Linked DNA regions of Homo sapiens: region 2 is linked to region 1. Evidence: fine-mapped expression QTL. Tissue or cell type: blood mononuclear cells. Region 1 holds a variant in brackets; the other region holds the start of a gene. All regions are shown on one strand. Distances are between the middles of the regions.

The links. PIP is the estimated chance that this variant, and not a neighbour inherited with it, causes the effect.
Region 2: FN1 starts here. The variant in region 1 is fine-mapped to the expression of FN1 in blood mononuclear cells (TOPMed, PIP above 0.99). The same link has a PIP of 0.9 or more in T cells and monocytes.

What each region holds. Positions count from the first base shown.
Region 1 is chr2:215,676,511-215,679,272 of GRCh38, reverse strand. All of the region lies in intron 5 of LINC00607 (long intergenic non-protein coding RNA 607), which reads left to right. It overlaps LOC102724861 (a long non-coding RNA gene), which reads right to left. Exons shown (of 8, transcript NR_187737.1): 5 at 1,067-1,329. Among named protein-coding and RNA genes, the nearest start is that of LINC01614, 40 kb to the left of the region's middle. The variant A/G (reference allele first, on the strand shown) is at 1,583.
Region 2 is chr2:215,434,850-215,437,349 of GRCh38, reverse strand. FN1 (fibronectin 1) reads left to right here and starts at 1,282. Exons shown (of 46, transcript NM_212482.4): 1 at 1,282-1,695. The coding sequence starts at 1,548. FN1-DT (FN1 divergent transcript) reads right to left here and starts at 1,659. Exons shown (of 2, transcript NR_187198.1): 1 at 1,041-1,659; 2 at 1-431. RefSeq lists silencers at 1,099-1,188, 1,199-1,258.

The DNA of each region.
Region 1 (2,762 bases):
GAGTCATATTCCATTATGTCTAAATACTACGTTTTCTTTCTTTTTTTTAAATAGGGCATATTCTTTTAATTTTTAATTTTTGTGTGTACATAGTAGAGTAGGTGTGTTTATTTATGGGGTATATGAGATATTTTGATACAGGAATGCAATGCATAGTGATCACATCAGGGTAAATGGAGTATCCATTACCTCAAGCCTTTGTGTTATAAACAATCTAATTATACTCTTTTAGTTATTTTTAAATGTACAACTAAATTATTTTTTACTATAGTCACCCTGTTGTACTATCAAATACTAGGTCTTATTAATTCTCATTTAAATACCACATTTTCTTTATCCATTTATTTGTTGATGGACACTTAGGTTGATACAAAATCTTAGCTATTGTGAATAGCTCTGCAATGAACTTGGAAGAGCAGGTATCTCTCTGACATATTGTTTTCATTTCCTTTGGATATATAATCAGAAATGGAATTGCTGGGTCATATGGTAGTTCTAATTTTAATTTTTTGAGGAACCCTAATACAGTTTTTAATAACAGCTGTAGTAATTTACATTCCCACCAACAATATACAGGGTTTCCTTTTTTTTTTCACAGTTTCACTAGCACTTGTTATCATTCATCATTCTGATAATAGCCATTCTAACAGGTGTGAGATAATATTTCATTGTGTTTTAATTTGCATTTTTCTGATCAGCAGTGATGTTGAGCATTTTTTCATATACCTGTTGGCCATTGTATGTCTTCTTTTGAAAAATGTCTATCCAGTTTTTTTTTGGGGGGGGTGCTAGATGAACTTTAATGTTCATACTTATTTTATATATATATCCAATGAAAGTCAGCCATGAAGATGGGCACCCAACTCTATAAATCTTTGGTTTTCCTCTTTTTAAAATCACTTTCTATGAAGTTGTGGGGGATGTATAATGAAGCAGCAGTTCTTTTTTCCAGTTTTGACCTGACTAGGTAAACAATCCTCTCTTGCATAATCAAAACAAATTTTTTCATAACATTTATCTCACACTCAGAGAAAATATAAGTGACTAAATGAAACAGGTTACATACCAAAGGGAAAATCTTTGTTCTTTTGTCTATTCAGGAAAGCCATATATTTTTTAGCTGACCAATTTCTTTCTCAGAGTTCATATTAATTCATATATCTCCATGCTGGGTTTAATCTTACTTAGCTTGTAAGTGCGGTTCTTCATCCCTGTCTTTTCTTGATGTTACTTGTGGCTCACAGCACTTAAAGTTCCTTAGGATGTCTCAAATTCTTGAGATTTCTGGACACCTTTTTTGATGTTTGAAATCAAAATGTTGACTTGTTTCTGTGAAAAGGGAAAGCAGTCACTGCAAGTCATATATATATATATACACATATATACACACACACACACACACACACACACACACATACACACACACACACACATAATTAAAAAAGAAATCTGGAAGTTGCCAAAGGAAGTTATGAGAATGCTGAAAAGCAAGAGAAATACCCTGCAGGAAACCAAAATTTCGAAAAGGCAGGGATAAGAAAACCTCAGACATTCCGGAAGTTTTACATGACACCCAACAATT[A/G]GGTATATTTTTTATTTTGGCCAACCCATCTGCTATTTTGAGGTTTTTTTTTGTTTTTTTTTTTTTTTGGCAATGCTGATGACATGCTGTCTTTCATATAAATTTACTGCTTTTACCCTTTTTGGAAACATGCTCCTTCTAATTTCCCTTAACACTTGAGTCACTGGATGGAGGTAGAGCAGGATAGGAGAGGGGAGGAGATAGGAACAGAAAGGGTGCTATTGATAAAGCGCTGCGCAGAGCCAATGAAAGTCAGCCATGGAGGTGGGTGCCTGGTTCTACTGAGGATCCACTTCATCAGCAAGCAGGCTCTACTGCTTGGGGTTTTCTGATGTAAAGAAATGAAGCTACATGTTTTTCTAGTGATGGATTTATCATTAGTTATACACATATTTTTGTATGGGCCTTTTTGGGAAAAAAAGGGTTTGCTCTGAACATGCCCCTTGCTCAATTGTTAGTAAAATAATCTTTCTATAATTGAGTTTAATGGCCATTTTAGGAGTGGAAAAAGAAAGACGTGGTACTATCAAGACATTGTATAAACAAAGGTTATTATGCAGTGAGAGAGAGAGAGAGAGAATCAGAGAATGGAACCCACCTTAGGGCTAACAATTAAATTAGAGTGGGATCTTGACATGAATATTTTTTAAAACTCCTAAGATGATTTAATGTATAACTAGGCTTGTGAACCATAGATAGAAAATTGAGACTGATACTTAGCTGTTTTTATTTTCATTTAAACCGTAGTTATTATAGATTTTTAAACAAGTTGAGTGTTATGCCAATGTTCTTTTAAATATTTTTAACCTGTTCTGCAAATAGACAGCAGGCTATAATGGCTTTATCTGTTTAGAGCATTATTTTTTAAAAAGAGATATGAGGCCAGGTGTGGTGACTCACACCTGTGATGCCAGCACTTTGGGAGGCTGAGGCAGGAGGATCACTTGAGGCCAGGAGTTCGAAACTAGCCTGGGCAACATAGGGAGACTCTGACTCTACAAAAAATAATATTAAAAAAATTAGCCAGGCATGGTGGTGCACACTTGTAGACCTAGCTATTTGGGAGGCTGAGGAGGGTCATCTGAGGCCAGGAGTTTGAGGTTACTCTGAGCTATAATTGTGCCACTATATTCTAGCCTGGGTAACAGAGTGAGACCCCGTCTCTACAGAGAGAGAGAGA
Region 2 (2,500 bases), 240 kb after region 1:
TGTTGCTAAATGAGAGACTTTTCAGATTCCCTTTCCACTCTGAGTTTAGAGTTCAAGGCGGGGGAATCTTAAAGGAGAACTTTCCACACTCTTGGAGTAAATAACAATTGAAATATAAAAAATCTGGCGGCGGGGGATGGAGGGGGCATTCTGTAATGGAACTTGTCAGCAAAAAGAAAATGGCAAATAAATGTGAGAAAGGGGCCGAAGGAGGGCAAGACAGTACATAGGGTGCCCCCCACCCACCCGGCTTTTAATGATTCAAGCAAAAAAATCTCTGCTTTGTGTGTAACTGGCACGGTGAACGTGGGAAAGGACACGAAGACCTTTCTCTCCCCACAGCTGGTCCAACTTTCCAATTTTCAGGTTGTTCACAGTGATTTCACTTTCAGTGGAAACGGGCGTCCCATCCCCAGGAAAGGAAGGCTTTCCTGCATGTGTAAAAAAGTAAACTGTTACTTTGTCCTTGCAAAAGAAAACTTCATTCTCTGAACTTCCCCGGGATCTGCAAAGCGCCCCGCGGAACTCCCGGTACTTAGTAGAAGCTCATTAAAGGTCTCTGTTCCCCTTTGCTCCCCGTTCGCCCGCTGGCCCTTTCTCAGAGCCAGACAGGCACAGCGCTGAGAAGGGAAGAAGTCCGAACAGGGAGCTGTGAAGACAAAATAAGGGAGTCCCGAGTCAGTACCCTTTAGTCCAAAGAAAGGGAGCGGGATGGGGGGAAAGGCAGCCCCGCCCTGGGACTGAAAAGTCTGGATTCTTAACAGCTGCAAGGTCGTGGATATTTTATGGGTTTTCTTCCTCACAAAATACACTCCTATAAGCAGAGATTCCCCCCCTCCACCCCGAAGAGAGGTGACGCAATGTCCTCAAACACTACCACCACCCCCAATAAAAAAGAAAAGGGAAGGGGGAGCGTCTTGCAACCCCTTCGCTTCACACAAGTCCAGCCACTCCCTTTCCTCCCAGCCGCTTCCCATCCCTTCCCCCATCCCCTAAAAAGTTTGATGACCGCAAAGGAAACCGAAAAAAAGTTGTCTTGCCCCAGTCCTGGCGGGCCATCAGCATCTCTTTTGTTCGCTGCGAACCCACAGTCCCCCGTGACGTCACCCGGAGCCCGGGCCAATCGGCGCGCGGTCGGCTGCGGCGGCCGGCGGGCGGGCGGGCGGGTGGGGTGGGGCGGGGCGGGGACAGCCCGGCGGGTCTCTCCTCCCCCGCGCCCCGGGCCTCCAGAGGGGCGGGAGGGGACCGTCCCATATAAGCCCCGGCTCCCGGCGCTCGGACGCCCGCGCCGGCTGTGCTGCACAGGGGGAGGAGAGGGAACCCCAGGCGCGAGCGGGAAGAGGGGACCTGCAGCCACAACTTCTCTGGTCCTCTGCATCCCTTCTGTCCCTCCACCCGTCCCCTTCCCCACCCTCTGGCCCCCACCTTCTTGGAGGCGACAACCCCCGGGAGGCATTAGAAGGGATTTTTCCCGCAGGTTGCGAAGGGAAGCAAACTTGGTGGCAACTTGCCTCCCGGTGCGGGCGTCTCTCCCCCACCGTCTCAACATGCTTAGGGGTCCGGGGCCCGGGCTGCTGCTGCTGGCCGTCCAGTGCCTGGGGACAGCGGTGCCCTCCACGGGAGCCTCGAAGAGCAAGAGGCAGGCTCAGCAAATGGTTCAGCCCCAGTCCCCGGTGGCTGTCAGTCAAAGCAAGCGTGAGTACTGACCGCGGGCTGAAACAGGCTGCCTCAGGGATGGGACCCTAAAGCCGACCAAAGTTGGGGCTGAAGTTTTGTGCGCGCGCGTGTGTGCGAGTGTGTGCGCGCTTTACTGAGAGAAACCAGCTGTGCACACAAAAGGACCGAGTTTTGAGCACGCTGGTTCTGAGGGCCTGGGATGATAAGACCGTGCATTGGAGGACGAGGACTCTGCGACTTTCCCGTGTTCTAATAAATTCTGCACGTTCAGATTGTCCTTCTAGGAATTAACCAAAACTTGCCTTTAAAGAGAAAAATGATGCATGTCTATAAATTTTCCGTCTGGGATTAGTGTGGTCCTTACTGCTACTTATTTCCTTCTGTTAAATAATTGGTCAAATATTTTCAACATGGGGGTGGAAAGGGGGTATTGAAATAGCTGTCTTGTTTCTAACTAACTTGGAAGAGATGTAATTGGTTCAGACCTCTTTAGGGCCGCTCAGGATACTTCACCAAGAACAGAGGTTGGAATTCTTTCCGTTTTTCAAAGACACACCCTCCTTTTGCTTTGAGAAAGCTGCTTAAAGTTGTCCTTTTTGACTATTACTCCAAAAGAATATTTAAGTTCCTTGCATGTTTTAAAAATGTGACTTCAATTGTCTGCCTTCCAAAATGTTTCCAACTTTTTTATGTAGACCCCTGGCCAGATGGAAATGACATCATTGTATATAACTTTTAGCAAAGTTAAAAGGAAAAAAATATGTACGTCAATATTCACATGAAGAAAATTCCATAATTTTGGGAAAAGGAGAAATGCAAATGT